5 linked regions of the Homo sapiens genome follow. The protein of the gene in region 5 purifies or fractionates together with the protein of the main gene of each other region. This does not show direct contact. Each region holds a gene or a part of one and is shown on either strand. Other genes may lie near its edges.

Evidence for each region.
Region 1: the proteins of NCAPD2 (region 5) and PNPT1 fractionate together in Homo sapiens (co-fractionation; one large-scale study listed by BioGRID). This does not show direct contact.
Region 2: the proteins of NCAPD2 (region 5) and ACBD3 fractionate together in Homo sapiens (co-fractionation; one large-scale study listed by BioGRID). This does not show direct contact.
Region 3: the proteins of NCAPD2 (region 5) and EML4 fractionate together in Homo sapiens (co-fractionation; one large-scale study listed by BioGRID). This does not show direct contact.
Region 4: the proteins of NCAPD2 (region 5) and IVNS1ABP fractionate together in Homo sapiens (co-fractionation; one large-scale study listed by BioGRID). This does not show direct contact.

What each region holds. Positions count from the first base shown.
Region 1 is NC_000002.12:55,687,340-55,690,856, forward strand, and holds part of PNPT1 (polyribonucleotide nucleotidyltransferase 1, mitochondrial precursor), read right to left. Parts: intron 367-3,517; coding exon 306-366; intron 1-305. UniProt on the Homo sapiens protein: RNA-binding protein implicated in numerous RNA metabolic processes. Catalyzes the phosphorolysis of single-stranded polyribonucleotides processively in the 3'-to-5' direction. Mitochondrial intermembrane factor with RNA-processing exoribonulease activity.
Region 2 is NC_000001.11:226,176,730-226,180,246, forward strand, and holds part of ACBD3 (Golgi resident protein GCP60), read right to left. Parts: intron 1-3,517. UniProt on the Homo sapiens protein: Involved in the maintenance of Golgi structure by interacting with giantin, affecting protein transport between the endoplasmic reticulum and Golgi. Involved in hormone-induced steroid biosynthesis in testicular Leydig cells.
Region 3 is NC_000002.12:42,167,993-42,172,163, forward strand, and holds the start of EML4 (echinoderm microtubule-associated protein-like 4), read left to right. Parts: upstream 1-1,360; 5' UTR 1,361-1,619; coding exon 1,620-1,644; intron 1,645-1,977; exon of another isoform or gene 1,978-2,239; intron 2,240-4,171. UniProt on the Homo sapiens protein: Essential for the formation and stability of microtubules (MTs). Required for the organization of the mitotic spindle and for the proper attachment of kinetochores to MTs. Promotes the recruitment of NUDC to the mitotic spindle for mitotic progression.
Region 4 is NC_000001.11:185,310,743-185,314,259, forward strand, and holds part of IVNS1ABP (influenza virus NS1A-binding protein), read right to left. Parts: exon of another isoform or gene 1,743-3,517; intron 581-1,742; 5' UTR 353-580; intron 1-352. UniProt on the Homo sapiens protein: Involved in many cell functions, including pre-mRNA splicing, the aryl hydrocarbon receptor (AHR) pathway, F-actin organization and protein ubiquitination.
Region 5 is NC_000012.12:6,521,595-6,525,111, forward strand, and holds part of NCAPD2 (condensin complex subunit 1), read left to right. Parts: intron 1-203; coding exon 204-443; intron 444-1,233; coding exon 1,234-1,408; intron 1,409-1,667; coding exon 1,668-1,752; intron 1,753-3,517. UniProt on the Homo sapiens protein: Regulatory subunit of the condensin complex, a complex required for conversion of interphase chromatin into mitotic-like condense chromosomes.

The sequences.
Region 1 (3,517 bases), on a different chromosome or scaffold from region 5:
TGAGGCAAAAGAATCGCTTGAACCCAGGAGGCAGAGGTTGCAGTGTGCCAAAATCGCACCACTGCACTCCGGCCTGGAGATGGAGCAAGAGTCCACCTCAAAAAAAAAAATAGGTCACTTAATACATGCAGTGCTCTGGACTCTGGTTGTCTGGAATGATTCTTGCAGTAGAAATTATCTTAGTAGTATCTGAATTAATTTCCAGTACCAAAATTCTAAGTAGTTACACGATGTTGTAGTTACACATTTAGTATGAGTCTCCGTAACCATTTTTAAGATGAATTTTAAAAATCTGGACTTTTTACCTGTACTACAGCAGAGCCATCTGCAAATCTGGCCAGCTTTCCAGAAGATATTTCTAATTTCCTGTTTAAAAATAAAAATGCAATACAAGAAGACTTAGGTCATCTGTACAATTCCTGCTTAGTATAAAATAATAAAAGATTCTAAGGGAAGATTCTAACCCCCAACCCACCCACTCCACCAACAAAAAGGGGCAGAATCCATGATCATTATCAAAAGTAAAAGTGGAATTTAAGAGTGGCTTAAAGAAGAATACGGAAACCAAGGCACAGGATTGATCTGAACAGGAAAGTCTTTTGGAGGTTCAGAAGTTAACTGCTTCCCTAAATGTTAATTCCCATGTACCATCTATTTTTTTTTTGAGGTGGGGGGTGGTCTTTGTGCCTTGTATCTTCTTTTTCTTTTCTTTTTTTTTTTTTGAGACAGGGTCTTGCTCTGTTGCCCAGGCTGGAATGCAGTGGCACAATTACAGCTCACTGCAACCTAGAACACCTAGGCTCAAGCGATCCTCCAACTCAGCTTCCTGAGTAGTTGGGACTACATGTGCACACCACTACACTTGGCTAATTTTAGTTTTTGTATGGATGAGTTCTTACTATATTGTTTAGGCTGGTCTTGAACTCCTGGCCTCAAGCAATTCTCCTGCCTTGGCCTCCCAAAGTGCTGGGATTACAGGTATGAGCCACTGTGCCTGGCTCCATTTACCATCTTAGTACAGTCTCTTATCATCTCTCACCTTGTTGACTACAGTAATGTTTTAACATACAAACAGGATTGTTTCCCTACTTAAAAATCCTTTAGCCAGGCGTGGTGTCTCCCACCTGTAATCCCAGGACTTTGAAAGGCTGAGGCAGGCCTGATCACCCGAGGTCAGGAGTTCAAGACCAGCCTGGCCAACATGGTGAAATCCCATCTCTACAAAAAATATCAAAATTAGCTGGGCATGGTGTTGCGTGTCTATAATCCCAGCTACCAAGGAGGCCGAGGCAAGAGAACTGCTTGAACCCAGGAGGGGGAGGTTACAGTGAGCCGAGATTGTGCCAATGCAGTCCAGCCTGGGTGACAGAGTGAGACTCTGTAACAAAAACAAAACAAAACAAAACAACAACAACAACAACAACAACAAAAAACTTTAGAATTTCTCCCAATGCTTTTAGGACAAAATATAAACTCCTAAATATTGCCTATAAGGACCTTCATGTTCAACAGAAGGGGAAAGAACAATTTTCAATTCAATGAGGAAAGAGTAGCCTTTTGAGGCAATAGTGGACAACTGGATGCAAAAAAGAATGAATCTTCATAAATTAAGTCAAAATGGATCCTAGACCCAAACGTAAGAGCTAAAACAATAAAAGTTTTAGAAACAAAACACAGGAGTAAATCTTCAGAGACTTGGGCCACACAAAGTCTTAAATATGACATCAAAAGCATAAATGACAAAAGAAAAAAATAGGTAAGCTGATTTCATCAAAATTTAAAACTTTAATTAAGAAAGTAAAAGAAACACCATAGATTAAGAGAAAAATATTTGCAAACCATGTATCTGATAAGGGACTTGTGTTAATATCTAGAATATTTAAAGAATGCTTACAATTCAACAATAAAGACAACTGAATTTTAAAACTTGGCAAAGGATTTGAATAGCCATGTCTCCAAAAAAGACATACAAATGGCCAGTAAGTACATAAAAATATGCTCAATATCATTAACTATCAGGGAAATACAAATCCAAATCACAGTGAATACCACTTGACAGCTGTTATGAATGTTCCTTGTAGCATTATTCATAATAGTTCCCAAATGGAAACAACCCAAATGTCCATCAACTGATGAATGGATAAGCTAAATGTGGTATAATCCATACAACTGATTATTATTCAGCGATAAAAAGGAACAAAGTACTAATACATGTCACAACATGGATAAACCCTGACAACATTATGTTAAGTGAAAGAAGACAGTCACCAAAGACTATGTTTCCATGTAAGAAATATTCATAATAGGCAAATCCACAGCGATGGAAAGTAGATTAGTGGTTACCTGGGGCTGGGGAGAAACGCTAAGTGACTACTACTAATGAATTTCTTTTTAGGGTGATAGAAGTGTTCTAAAATTGATGGTGGTAATGGCTGCAAAACTTTGAATATACTAATATCCATTGAACTGTACACTTTATTTATCTGTATTTACTTATTTTGAGATAGGGTCTTGCTCTGTTGCCCAGGCTGGAGTGCCGTGGTGCCATCTCAGCTCATCTCAGCCTTGACCTCCCAGGCTCAAGTGATCCTCCCATCTCAGCCTCCCGAGTAGCTCGAAATACAGGTGTGCACCACCATGCTGGGCTAATTTTTAAATTTTTTGTAGAGATGAGGTCTCACTATGTTACCCAGGCTGGTCTCAAACTCCTGGACTCAAGCAATCCTCCTGCCTTGGCCTCTCAAAGTGCTAGGATTACAAATATAAGCCACTGCTCCCAGACGAGTTGTACACTTTAAATTAACTGTATGGTATGTGAATTATATCTTAATAAAGGTGTCTTATATACATGAAATAGGCAGCACTATTAGCCTTATTCCCTAGTTTCAGCAGAGAATGCAAAAAGAGGTTACTGATGTCTTGAAACAGACCAGCAAAACTTGTCAAAGAGCTCAAGATTCATCAAAAGGTGTTTTGAGATGAAACCAAGTCAGTGACCCCTGAAGATACAGAGAAAGAGAAAGATGTTGTGTCACATGAACTCAGTTTCGGCAACATTCTATCATAGTCTGGTGCTGAAAATGCACAAACCAAACACAAGCATGTAGACAGGCCCAATGCCCTACCCCAAGTAAGATTATTCTGTCTTTCACATACCAAGGAGATGAAGGAACAACCCTTAATATTTTCACCTGTTAAATACCTTTGCCAGAAGCCTGAGTTAATGAAAAGCATATTTATCTATTCAGTTAGACTCATTTTGTTAAGTTTGAAAGTCAGAACAAAGTATGTACATTTAATATATGTTAATAAATACAATGATTTTGTAGTATCAAATTCTTGACTCTGAAATATTAGTTTTTTTTTAAAATCAGGGAATATTTGAGAAATTCTAGTTGGGTTTCTATTTATTCAACACAGATGTTATAATGATGAAAGCCTACAATAAAATGGGTCTCCTGTGACTAATGGGAATGAGGTACAGAGAGGCTGATGCTGGATTAGTATGTTGAGTAGA
Region 2 (3,517 bases), on a different chromosome or scaffold from region 5:
GAAAAGTAAAATATACATGAAGAAAAAAATGCCTCAACTTTTGTGAATACTGACTCACAATGTCAAATAATCAGCAAAATTATAAGGCTAATTATAAAGTTTATCTGATCCATGACTGTCAATGAGATATTTTAATATTTCTTCTCAGTAAATTTAAAAAAACAGTATTTGTTAGTAGATAAATTGTTAGAAATTGTTTATTAACTGCTTTCGAAGAAACATGTCCAGCAACTTTGAGGAAAAAATGTGCACATTATTTTTAATCACATACAATCAAACATAATTGGTAATGTACCGAAGATTACATTCAGCCGTGAGTAACAGGAAACACCCACAATATTCCTGATATGAGGAAAGTGCTTATTCTCACATCAAAGTACTGGGTGAAACCAGTCACTGCACAATGCGGCAGAGGAACAAATTCCCATGTAGCTGTTTTTTTTTTTTTTTTTTTTAGACGGAGTCTTGCTTTTGTCGCTTGAACCGGGACGGGTTCAAGTGGTCCCAGTTGATGCTGGAGTGCAGTGGTGTGATCTCAGCTCACTGCAAGCTCCACCTCCCAGGTTTACGCCATTCTCCTGCCTCAGCCTCCCAAGTAGCTGGGACTACAGGTGGCCACCACCACTCTTGGCTTTTTTTTTTTTTTTAAGTAGAGACGGGTTTCACCGCATTAGCCAGGATGGTCTCCATCTCCTGAACTCGTAGATCCGCCTGCCTCAGCCTCCCAGAGTGCTGGGATTACAGGTATGAGCCACCGTGCCCAGCCCCACGTAGCTGTTTTTGACAGTACCATTGTAGCTGTCATCTTGAATCAGGAACAGTCAATACCAGTATGAACAGAGGAGTTTACTATACAAATCAGATCTTCTATCAATTTAATCCATAGACTAGGGGAGTCAGATCATCAGAGGATATTCCCAACCATGAGAGTCTGAACAGGTTGTCCGGTACACGTTAGGGCTTGCAGGAAAATCTTAAGTGCAGACGGATTTTTAGTATGAGTTGTTTTGAGCCACTATTTTTTTTTTTTTTTAGACAGGGTCTTGCTCTGTAGCCCAGGCTGGAGTGCAGTGGCACGATCTCACTCACTGCAACCTCTGCCTCCCAGGTTCATGTGATTCTCCCACCTCAGCCTCCTGAGTAGCTGGGGCTACAGGTACAAGCCACCAAGCCTGGCTAATTTTTGTGGGGTTTTTTTTGCAGAGATGGAGTTTTCCCATATTGCGCAGGCTGGTCTGGAACTCCTGAGCTCAGTGATCCACCTGCCTCAACCTCCCAAAGTGCTGGGATTACAGACGTGAGCCACTACACCCAGCCCAAGCCAATAAATTTGTGGTAATTTGTTACAAGAGCAATAGGAAACTAACATGATATACAAAACACATTTTTCAGGCAATTAAAAACAGATAATGGGATGTACATTATGTTCTTACTAAACTCACAAGTATTTAACTTTACAGTTCAAATAGGACAGCATAATTTGATACCAAGTCCAAAGCTCTGAAAGATTACAATTAAGTCCCTCCCACCTGAAATTAAGTATACAAAAGACTATTAGGGGCTGGGCGCAGTGGCTCACACCTGTAATCCCAGCACTTTGGGAGGCCAAGGTGGGCGGATCATCAGGTCAGGAGTTCGAGACCATCCTGGCTAACATGGTAAAACCCCGTCTCTACTAAAAGTACAAAAAAAAAAATTAGCCGGGCATGGTGGCGGGCGCCTGTAGTCCCAGCTACTCGGGAGGCTGAGGCAGGAGAATGGCGTGAACCCGGGAGGCGGAGCTTGCAGTGAGCCGAGATTGCGCCACTGCACTCCATCCTGGGCGACAGAGCAAGACTCCGTCTCAAAAAAAAAAAAAAAAAAAGACTATTAGGCTCACACCTCAATTGCTATTTTATAGGAGAAATCATATTTTTTCTCTTCTCTCTGGAGGCAAAGGAAAGTACCAAATTATTTCAATGTCCCTTCTAGCCTTCATTTAATGAAAGAAGGCCATAAAATCTACGGCGTGGAAAGGATGTTAAAGATAGGTGATTGAATTGCAAACTAAATCTCAAATCCTCTCTACAATATCCACCCAGCAATTGCTAACCTATGCTTGAATACTTCCTGGTGATAAGAACTCACTGTCCCAAAGCAGTCTAATCCATCTTTGAATAGCTGTGATTCTTAGCTCTTTATTCTGAGGTGGTATCTCTCAACTCCATCCACAGGGTTTATTTCCTGTCCTCAGCATTAACTAAAACACATCTAACTAATTAGACCTCAAGAAAGTCACAAAATATGTATTGTGTTTGCCCTGAGTTCTCTATTCTCTTGGCTACACATTCCCAGCTTAGTCAATCATACTTCAAATTTAAATTTAATTCCCAGCTCTGCTATTAAGTATATAACATGGACAAGTTATTTAATCTTTTGAAATCTGTTTTGTTATCAATAAAATAAATACTGCTCCTTAGGGTTCATATGAGTGTTAGAAATGTGTCCCAAAATCTTTGTATAGTGCCTGCACAGAGCAGACACTGACTAAACAGCAGCCATTATGATAATAATGGCAGGGACTTGAATTCCCACTAGGTACAAGTTGCTCTCTTCTGAATGAGCTCCATTTTGTTTTTAACCCTAAAGGATGATGCCTCAAACAAGCAGTATCCACGGCTTGTTTGAGGTGTACTCCTTGGTGCAGAGGAGAGCAGGACTATCTCTCTCTTTCCCTCATCCTAGTTACCATATTTCCACCAAAGCAGCCTAAGATCAAATCTGTTTTATTTCATGGCCATATCACACTGTTGCCTCACAGAGAATACACTTTGATTAAAATCCATCTTTTAGAAATATTAAAACTGGGCCAGGCGTGGTGGTTCACGCCTGTAATCCCAGTACTTTGAGAGGCCGGGTGGGCAGATCACCTGATGTTGGGAGTTTGGGACCAGCCTGACCCAACATGGAGAAACCCCATCTCTACTAAAAATACAAAAATTAGCCGGGTGTGGTGGTGCACACCTGTAATCCCAGCTACTTGGGAGGCTGAGGCAGGAGAATCGCTTGAACCCAGAAGGCAGAGGTTGCAGTGAGCTGAGATCGCACCACTGCACTCTAGCCTGGGCACCAAGAGTGAAACTCCGTCTCCAAAAAAAACCAAATATTAAAACTGAAAAACCAACTAGGTGCAGCAGCTCACGCCTGTAATCCCAGCACTTTGGGAGGCCGAGGTGGATGGATCACAAGGTCAGGAGTTCAAGACCAGCCTAGCCAACATAGTGAAACCCTGTCTCTACTAAAAATACAAAGATTAGCTGGGTGGGGTGGCACGTGCCTGTAGTCCCAGCTACTCGGGAGGCTGAGGCAAGAGAATAGTCTGAACCTAGGAGGCGGAGGTTGCAGTAAGCCAAGACTGGGCCATTCCACTCCAGCCTGGGCAACAGAGCAAGACTCTGTCTCCCAAAAAAAAAAAAAAAAAAGGATAATACAATGCAGTATTCCTAAATCAATGAGTAGGAAACACTCTGGGAATTGC
Region 3 (4,171 bases), on a different chromosome or scaffold from region 5:
CGTTTAGTCTGTAACCTGAATTTATCTTGGCTGCGTTATGGCCAGTCTCCATATAGTATGGTATTCAGAAACAGGTCTTATATCCAAATAAGAAATGCAAAGTAATTTACATTTTTAGGGAAGATTTTTAAAGAGGCAACAAAGGGAGACGTATACCCCAAGAAGGTTTAACAATCCTTTCAATCATTTAATTCCTCTAAGTCTCTCTCATCATTACATATTTCTTGTCTCCCTTCTTGTTTGTCCCTCTCTCCTGCAACTCTGTGTAGTAGGACTCTGTTTTCCCCTAACTCAGCTTTTTATTATGTATTTATCAATTTATTATGTATAGATCAATTCAGTTCTTCAGTACCTTACAGCTCTTCTCTCTCTTACTCTAATCTGCACAACTGAGCCCCAGGAGGGACTTGACAAACCATGAGAAAGTCTTTAGAAGTATGGGAAATCGTGTTGGGGAAGGGAGGAAGAATATGAACGCTATGTATATTTACATGTTTTGGTTACATGTCCAGACAACCAATTTGCAAATGAATAAAGTGACGCCTAAATAAATTAGGTGATTTGACACTCTTGAGTCATACGGAGTTGGGCCTAGAACTCAGTGTTACTTCATTTGAAATAACCCTTATTATGGTTCCCTAGCAGGCCATCCTATAGCCTGCCATATATGGTCGTTTTGCACCCCTAGACGACAGAACGCTAGGGAGAGTAAGGAAGGCTGAGTTTTTGCTTCTACTAGGTTCGATGACCTTGGGCAGGTTGTCCTCTCTAAGGCTCTGTGTTTTTCTTCATAAGAAGGGTTAGACAAGATGAACTTTTGGGTCATGTCCAGCACTAAAATTCCTTGCTTCTGATCTGTCCCGGGCCCTGCGGCTGTGGCAGTGGTGGTATCGAGCTAGTCAAGAAGCTTCGCCCCTATTTGTCCCCCACCCTATTGGGGGAGAGGGAGAACCTCTCCCTCTTGGTTGCTTCTTTAGTGTCCTTGTAGGACCCACGTGGTGGTCATCTCCCGTCACGGGGGTCCAGTCTTGGCTCTGCGGGCTTCCCAGGGGCCACATAGGGAGAGGATCCTTCATGCATCAGAGTATCGCAGGCCAGAGTCTATGCCTTATCCCCACCTGTTTGGAACCAGCTTCCAAACCGTGGTCCCCAGCCTTCAGCAGGCCTACCGCGCAGGCGCAACCACCAGCCTGGCGCGAGGCGGACAAACGCCGAGGCCGAGGCAAGGTGAGAGGGCGGGGCTGGCAAGACCCCGCCTCCGTGGCGTCACGTGGGAGGCGGAGTCGGAAGTGTGACGGCGTGCGCGGGGCGGGGCTACTGCTGCGCGCGGGCGCGGGGGCGGGGCGGGGCGCGGCGCGGCGCGGCGCTCGCGGCTGCTGCCTGGGAGGGAGGCCGGGCAGGCGGCTGAGCGGCGCGGCTCTCAACGTGACGGGGAAGTGGTTCGGGCGGCCGCGGCTTACTACCCCAGGGCGAACGGACGGACGACGGAGGCGGGAGCCGGTAGCCGAGCCGGGCGACCTAGAGAACGAGCGGGTCAGGCTCAGCGTCGGCCACTCTGTCGGTCCGCTGAATGAAGTGCCCGCCCCTCTAAGCCCGGAGCCCGGCGCTTTCCCCGCAAGATGGACGGTTTCGCCGGCAGTCTCGGTGAGTACGGCTGGGGAGTCCTGCGTCTTCTGCGAAGGGTAGGAACTTTTTTCCTTCCGCACACAGCCCAGGCCCTGCCCTCCCGCCTGCCCCTCGGGGTGGCAGCGGCTCCACTGCACATGTTCCCTTCGAGGCTGCCGCCCCTCCGCGGACTCCGGTGGACTGAGGGCCCCTCCCCCATGTCCAACTCTCCTCTGTGTCAGACCCTCCTTTCCTCCCGGAGCCCCTTTCAGTGCGGGGCCCTCGTTCCCCCAAAGTGGGAACCCCTTCCTTCTCAGGCCCCCCGATAGCTGGCACACCCCTCCCCGTACACTCACGGCTCCCTCCACTTACCCCCCTTCAGAGTTGGGACATTTCTTCAAATCCAGGCTCCTCTTCAGGGTACAACCTTCCACCACCTTTCCACATACACGCCTCTCTTTCAGGGTGGGGATCGCCTTCACCCGAACAGAGGCTCCTTTTTAGGGGAGGGACCCTCATTCCCTCTTCAGGAAGGGGGCATCCCCCGCCCCCAAGTCTTCACTTTAGATTTGAAGGCGACTTTCCAGTATCCTTCAGAGTAGTAGGCAACTTCCTTTTCAATCCCTCCACTTCTCTGAGCATTTTGCAGTGGTGGAGAGACCTAGAAGCATCGGAGCATCATTTGCTTAATGCAGGAAAGGAAGAGGTGCATCTGTGTTGGGGGACCCTCTTTAAGAGTGAAAGCAGAAGTGTTTTCTGGTTCTGCATACATGCTGGGGAGAAGTGATTCTGCCCAATGAATCAATAGGAAAGGGGGCCTCTATCAGGGAAGGAAAGGATTCTCCATTTTTGGAAGATGTTGTCTTTGTGGAATGGAGAAAGGGAAGAGGTTATTAAATAGGCTGAAGTGCCTTTTCAGTGTTCCTTTCACCAGATGAAGGTAATCTTCTGGCTAGGAAAATCAAAACTCCAGGCTAGTATTCGCTGCCCTAGAAGCTGAATCTGGAATTACTATTCTTCGAGGCCATTGAAATCTAGTAAAAGATTAAGTTCAACTGTTAGAATGGTGAGAGAAACAGTTTCAGCTTTGGCTGATAACGCAGTTGTGTGATACCTACTGCTGGAACTGTATTTTGAGTTTTTTATGTGCAGGTAGCTTGTATTCAGACGCCTTTCTTTTACATTTCTTGATAATAAGTCTCTACTTGGTTAATGTTCACTGATCAGTGAGCAGTCTGGCCATAGGCCGTACTATATCCAGATAATATCGAGATGAGATGGATTTTTAAAATCTAAAGTAAAAAAGTAAGTCAAAGAGCAATGGGCCTATTATAGATATTAAATAGTAAAACCTATAATTTTGGCCTTCCCTTTTTCTTGGGCAGAAAAAATTGTCGTTATATTGCTTTCAGAGTGGAAATCCTAAAATAGGAGGCAACTGAGTGTTGTGTTACTCTTTCCTCCTCAAAGGCACCTGTTGTCCATTATCTAACCTTTGATGTCTTGTAATTCCTTACTTAGGTTGGGCTCTTTTTAGAGAGACATCCATTTTTCCCTGGTTCTTTTTTAGCTCCATGCGTTGGTTTATTCACAGTAAGTGTTGGACCGAAAAACTTGTCCTATATGTCCGCTGAAGGGCTGATCTTATACTAAAGTAAAAATTGAGTGTCTTCTTAGGGGATGTTGTGGAGAGCTGTGCTATCTTTATACTGTATTGGGTCCTCATCCTGTAGGAGTGGTGAGATCACTTTAACTTCTTTCGTGTTGGCTCTAAAGATTTCTGGAGGGCTTGTTAAAGCTTCATCTTCTGTAAGTGTTTAGGAGGAGTCTTTCTCACCAGTTGGGGCACTTAATGTTTATTTTCAAACATTGATTATGCTTTGTAATAGCTTTCTTCTTTCTTAACCAGTTTATGAGGCAAGTGATACAAAAGACCGAGAGATGAAGATGAATTGCAGTTGGGGCTCACACTTTTCATAAAGAGCGTCATTGTTGACCCTAATGTTGGATTTAAAAAATTCATTTGATGCCATGCTTTGGGTGGTATGTGATGAGACTTTCCTTTAGATATGGTGTTAATCAGGAGCAGAGGAGATATGCCTATCAGAGGAACCTGCATCTGCAGAGAGGGAAGGAAATGGTTCCTGGCAGTATTTCTGGAGCTGTTCTTGATGAAGATACTTCTCAGTGGGAGCTCTGTGCTTTCTCTTTCTGTCCCCCTTGCAAGAGTAAAACTAGGCCCCATCTTAATTGAAACCTTAAAGGGGTGGGGGAGGAGTAGTGCTGGTATATTTTACTGGTAGTCTTTAAGCGGAGCTTTGCTCAGCTCTTGCCAAATTGCTTGTTTCTGTTCTCTGCAGTTAATTAGCCTAGAGCTTAGAGTTACATTGATCTTTATTTTACCATCAGGAGAGCCATGAATATAAAGGCAAGCACTTCTACTCTAGTAGGTGTTTAAAAACTTTTTTTTTTTTTAAACAAGAAGTCAAAACGTGAAGTTCTTCTGGGGTTACAACTATTGAAAGCATTTATTCTCAAGGAAGTATGTGTGTATTTCCTTTTACAT
Region 4 (3,517 bases), on a different chromosome or scaffold from region 5:
TGGCGCACACCTGTAGTCCCAGTTACTAGGAAGGCTGAGGCAGGAGAAGCACTTGAGCCCAGGAGTTCCAGGCTGCAGTGAGCTATGATCCCACCACTGCACTCCAGCCTGGACAACAGAGATCTTATCTCTTTAAGGAAAAAAAAAAAGGCAGTAAGAAATTTTAATTTGAAGTTACTGATTTATTTAAAGTCAAAATATAGAAAAGAAAAATATGATGTTTTTTATACTCAAATGATTACTGACTTCTCTGCCTTTAAAAAAAGAGTATGAAAGGTTTACTGTACTCGACATCCGTCTTCAGAAAAACAATGTGTCTTAATACTGGACTAGGCAGAGAACATTCACTTACCTACTCTGTTGGTGGCAAATGTATTTCTGGGAACTCTTAAGTAATCCAAGGACAAAGGAGTGTTAAAAGGTGCACTTCGTCAGGGTATGAAGACAGGTGGTTGAAATGAAGGCAGGTGTGTCTTAAGCTCTAATGGTGATTCCAAAACTATCAGGCTTGAAAATGATGTAATCAAGTCCTTAAAAGCTATAGACACGAATTTCTTCTGTGATAATGATGCATCATAATCTATAACAATGATAAATTTAAGTTAGATATTCAGAATAATCAAAGACTGTCATTGATCTAGGTAGAGCAGATCATGTAAAACAAGTCCTGATCTTCAAGAGATTTGACATAAATGGCAAAAATATTCCCATTACATAAAAAAAGAACACAAATGCAATTCCACATAAACATTTTTCATTTAACTTGCAACAACCCAAGTGATTAAAAAAAAAAAAAAAAGTCCTTTCCCAAAGGGCAGGGGCTAATGACCTATGTTTATGAGAGGTATAAAAGCACAAGACTACAAAACAAATGTCAATACTGTTTAATTCTAATATTCTTTATTATTAATTTCCAACTAATATGCAAACATGAGATCTGTTTTGAGCCAGCAAGCAACCTTAGGCATTATTCCCAAGCATATATACTATGTTACTGTTCCTCAAAATGAACTCTGCACTTCCCAGGCTCTGTTAACTTTGTTCAAGTTCTTCTCTCTACCTGGAAGGCCCTTAACCCAACCTCTGCCAGAGGAAATCTTACAGCCATAGAGCCTCTGCCAAATGCTCCCAGTTGGGAAGCAGTTTCTCCTCATCCTCCACATTTAGAACCCTATCTGAGGGGTATTTATGATCTTCCAGCTGGTCTGTTTCATGCTGTATTTATATTCATGCTGTATTTATATATACTTGTTTATCTTCCTTGACTCATGGGCAAACCTTCTGTCTTGTTCATCTTTTGTATCCATCCCATCTCCTCTCTACCAGGACTAGCCTAAAAACTTGAACATAAAGATGAGTAATTTGTTGGAATAAACTAAACAGAAGGGAAAATACTGATGCCTGTGCTTTGTATAATCATTTTTCTCATACACAGTAATAAACTACCAATGGAATCATTCTGGTTCAAACCTAATCTTCAAGGTAATCAGTCCTCCTACCTATTCTCCCTCCCTCATTTTCACATCATCAATTACTAGTGTCAAATTCTGATGGTACTTATTTTGTAATCACCTGAACTGCTATTACACCACTATTAACTCTGGAAACCAGAACTAAGGAATAACTTACCTGAAATACGTGCAAATATATTCATTTTTATGGATATCTTAAGATTATTTGCCTTATACATCAATACAACAATTCTAAATCTAACAATTACGTCAAAGTGAATAATCACTTACCACAGGACTCCACTGCAGGCTGGTCCAGTTCGAATTCAACAAACCTACTATGTTTAGTTCAACATGTGTCCTAACAGGTCTCTCTGTAACAGGTTTCATTTCAAGGAAACCCAATAATGCCAATTCGGGTTGGGATTGTTGTGAATGCTTACCCTTGCATCAAAACTATATCACAGCATTAGGTAATATTGATTTCCTCTGCTCTACCTTTTATCTAGGTTAGTTAATTTGGCTTTTCTCTAAGAAACTAGTTCTAACAAATGTTTTCCAAATATACATAATTCTTTCTACACAGAGAGAACACACTATCCTAAAGAAACCTTCAAACATTTTCAGCCAAGACCTGGCTCAAACTAAGAAAATTTTCATATATATATGATTTATACTGGCATGGTCAATTCACAGGCATAGTTGGCAACTCCTAACTTCAGTTTCATAAGCTGCTCTTAAAATAAGAGGAAGGAGTCCCCATGCAAATTGTTATATTAAAATGCATCCTCTGAAAAGCCAAAAACATTATAATATGAAGGTACTATTTTAAACTTTGACCAGTTTTACTCACTTTTTACTTGTAAACTTGATCTAACAAAAAATAAAAATGGTATCCACTTACTATATTTGACAAATTGAATGATCTACCTAAAATTTATTTTGGAAAAAAATGGTTAAAATTACTGCAGCCCTTGGAGAAAACACTGGAGAATTTTTGGGGCAATTTGCATCAGACAAATTTGTACAATATTATTATGAGTTTTGCAGTAAAATGAATCCTGTATTTAGTGCTTGATTTTTATTTAGTTTTTACTCTAATTCCATGACAGTACCTGATTTTTAGTACATCAAGGTCATAATATGAACCTCATCTCTTTAATATCTACTGATCAGAGTACAAAGCTACTTGATTTTAAAAGCCAGCCCAAATCTAGATGACATTTAAGTTAATGCAAACTTACTTTATTCAATTATTGTCCTCATACACTATATACCTACTTCCCGCCCACCTCAAGTTTGGAGGGGATCAGATCAATTCCTGTCTGTAAAACCATGTTTTTGAAAGTTCCTATTTACTTTCATTAAAGTGAGCTAGGGCAAATCAAGAGTTTTAAACTACTCCCCAAATTGACGGGAGATCTTATTTGGTCTATAAAACTCAAGCACGATAACTAGTGGAATTAAAAAATGGGGAAAATTGTTTTCTTTGAAAATCCAAACCAAAAGTCCAGACATCCCAGAGTCATATAAGAGTATGAAACGTAGAATTGTTTGGTGTTTAAAATACACTTTCAACTAAATCTACACCTAGGTCACTTTTCTTACACATTTAAAATTAAAACTAGGATCAAATACAATATATTCAGATAAATTCAGCATACTTCTATGGCCACTGCAAGGGATACCGAAGACTCATAAATGAGTAATTAAACTGCTTTAATAACACCCAGAAGTTCACAGCCCGGAAAGATTAGCTTAAGTGAAATACAATTCAACAGGTCTTATCAAAGAGTTGTTAAAAAGGTAGGCACAATATGGCCTCTGCTAAAATTTTTCTCTGGCCTTCAGTAAGACCAAGATAAAACAAAAGACAATCGTTTGAGGGCAGTCAGCTCCCACCAAGTAGCCATCAGCTGCATTTTTAAAGGAAAGACTTTATAATACAAAGTAAATCAACACATCTTTTTAAAACCAGAAGTTACAGCTTTCCAAAGTAACCTCTAAAACCACCATCACCATCCATGTATATGAAAACTCGCTGAACTCATTCATTCTATCCATGC
Region 5 (3,517 bases):
GAGAATCACCTTAGCCCGGGGAAGTTGAGGCTGCAGTGAGCGGTGATCATTGCCACTGCACAGCCTAGGCAACAGAGTGAGACCCCATCTCAAAAGAAAAGAAGAAGGAAAATAAATAAGTAAATATCCAGGAATGTTGACAGCTGTTGGATTCCCCTGTATCCCCTTGAACGAAACCATCCTGTACTTCTCTAACTCCTTAGGCCCAGCAGCTTCCACACAAGAAAAGAATCCCCGGGAGTCTACAGGAAACATGGTCACAGGACAGACTGTCTGTAAAAATAAACCCAATATGTCGGATCCTGAGGAATCCAGGGGAAATGATGAACTAGTGAAGCAGGAGATGCTGGTACAGTATCTGCAGGATGCCTACAGCTTCTCCCGGAAGATTACAGAGGCCATTGGCATCATCAGCAAGATGATGTATGAAAACACAACTACAGGTATGCCAGAGTCCCTTTCTATAAGGACAGCCTTGGGGTTCTTTTGGATTTTTTAATTTTTTAAATTTTTATTAACAATAGAGATGGGGCCTTCCTTTGTTGCTCAGGCTGGTCTCCAACTCCTGGGCTCAGGCAATTCTTCTGCGTCAGCCTCCCAAAGTGCTGGTATTACAGGTGTGAGCCACTGCACCCGGCCATGGATCTTGGAGTTCTTTTCCATATTTTATTGATATATCTATCTGCTCCTTTAAAAGGCAGGGGTTCTCGGCTGGGCGCGATGGCTCATGCCTGTAATCCCTACAAAACTGGGAGGCCAAAGCAGGAAGACAGGTTGAGGCCAGGAGTTCGAGAGCAGCCTGGGCAACATAGCAAGACCCCATCTCTACAAAGAAACAAAAACTAACTGGGCGTGATGGCACGCACCTGTAGTTCCAGCTACTCGGAAGGCTGGGCAGGAGGATTGCTTGAGCCCGGGAGTTTGAGGCTACAGTGAGCTGTGGTCATGCCACTGCACTCTAGCCGGAGCAACAGAATAAGAACCTGTGTCTTAAGAAAAGAAAAAAAAAAGGCAGGGGTTCTTTTTTTCTGTTTGCTTCCTCTAGCCACTTACAGCTTATACATTTTAATGCATATAGTATTTCATGATAAGGCATCATAGGAGGAGTCGACATTCTCAGGGAAAATGCGGAAGGCCTCCATTTGCATCTTGCTACATTCAGAAAGGTTCTGTCGTTAGGTATTGGGGGAGTTTTGTGAAGTAGATAGGTGACATTTGTACATGTTCTCTCAGTGGTGCAGGAGGTGATTGAATTCTTTGTGATGGTCTTCCAATTTGGGGTACCCCAGGCCCTGTTTGGGGTGCGCCGTATGCTGCCTCTCATCTGGTCTAAGGAGCCTGGTGTCCGGGAAGCCGTGCTTAATGCCTACCGCCAACTCTACCTCAACCCCAAAGGGGACTCTGCCAGGTATATGGGGTGCTTTTGCCTTTGCTGACTTTTCCAAGGTCAGCTTCTCACAGGACTTCCCTTGTCTCCTAAAGGAAGAGGTGCATTTCTCCAGGGGAGTTCCAGATCCATAGGCAGTCCATCATAGTGGGGCTTAGGGTGGGGCTCGGTTTCCAGGGAGAGCAGTTTTGTAGCACTGTGGTGGGATAGCCCTAATCACTGTTTGCCAAGTTCAGCTTCCCAATCTTATAGTGACCGCTGATCTCTGCTGTTCCCACAGAGCCAAGGCCCAGGCTTTGATTCAGAATCTCTCTCTGCTGCTAGTGGATGCCTCGGTTGGGACCATTCAGTGTCTTGAGGAAATTGTAAGGCTTCCTGCTTTCTCTTTCTTTATTCATTCAACAAGTATTTTGGTTGTTTTTTTTTTTTTTTTTGAGACGGAGTCATGCCCCATTGCCCAGGCTGGAGTGCAATGGCACAATCTTGGCTCACTGCAACCTCCGCCTCCCAGGTTCAAGCAATTCTCCTGCCTCAGCCTCCCGAGTAACTGGAATTACATGCATGTGCCACCATGCCCGACTAGTTTTTTGTATCTTTAGTAGAGACGGGGTTTCACCATGTTGGCCGAGCTGGTCTCGAACCCTTGACCTCGTGATCCACCCGCCTCAACCTCCCAGAGTGCTGGGATTACAGGCGTGAGCCAAAGCGCCCGGCAACAAGTATTATTGAGTTATTACTATGTATTTAGCAATTTACTTAGCTCCAGAAAGAAGTATAAGACTATTTGCTTTCATGTTCCCAACTTTAAAGGAACCAACAGTCTAGTTGGTAGTGAAAAACCACAGAACATTTTTAGAACAATGCAGCAGGTAGATAATAAAGTGCCAGAATGAGTTGTACGGGTAATGGTTGTCATAGCAATAATAACAACCTCACTTATATGGTATTGAATATATGACAGGCACTCACACGTTACTCACAGTAACTTGTTTAATCCTCACGACAGCCCTGTGAGGTAGCATTATCTGCATTTTACAATGAGAAATCTGAGGCACAGAGAAGTTACTGAACTTGGCTGGTTACAGCTAGTTAGTGGCAAAGTTTGAGATTCAAACTCAGGCAATAAGAGCTCTAGAAAACATACTCTTAACTTCTGTGTTCTACTGAGGGATACAGAGTAGGAAAGAGAGCGGTTTGGGGTAGAATGGTCAAGGAAGCTTCCTGAAGGTGGTAGGACTTAAGCTGGGTCTTGAAAGATGAGTAGGATTTAGAGAATCAGAGCAAGGAGGGAGGGCATTTCAAACAGAACCCAAGAAAGAGCACAGTTCACATTGTAGAACAAAGAAGACTGTGTTCTGGTTCAAATTATCTGGAAAAGACCAGGCGCGATGGCTCACGTCTGTAATCCCAGCACTTTGGGAGGCCAAGGCAGCAGATTACCTGAGGTCTGAGGTCAGGAGTTCGAGACCAGCCTGGTCAACATGGCGAAACCCCACCTTTACTAAAAATACAAAAAAATTAGCCAGGTGTGGTGGTGGGCACCTGTAGTCCCAGCTACTTGGGAGGCTGAGGCAGGACAGTTGCTTGAACCCAGGAGGTGGAGGTAGCAGTGAGCCGAGATTGCGCCACTGCACTCCAGCCTGGGCGACAGAGGGAGACTCTGTCTCAAAAAAAAAAAAAAAAAAAAAAATCTGGAAAAGATAATAAAGTTGTGAATGTAGGTTGGAACTAAACTGTGGAAGTCCCTGAATGACTTCAGGAGTCTAGGACTTTAACTGTGTTAGCCAGGCACCCAGCATTTTAGTGAGACATTCTGCTTTGTAGCATTTGCATTGCGGGCACAGAGAGTGGAGGTGGCGCTGGGAAGCGTGCTCCTGCCAGCCACATTTTTCTCCTCACTGGGGAAAAGAAAAGAGCCTGGTGGTGGTGATTGGCCATGATGTCATAGGTCAGTTACCGGCAAAAGCCCTACAAGAGGCAGGGGAGAGCACCTGCAAACTGGGGTGCAACAGAAGGGACGTGGGGAAGCAGAGGCTGAGGAGACCAACCCATGGGAAGGAAGGCCCGTGGAGGCTGCTGCAGTGGGCAGTAACGAGGGGCTGGACTTGAGGATTGGAGAAATCACTGCAG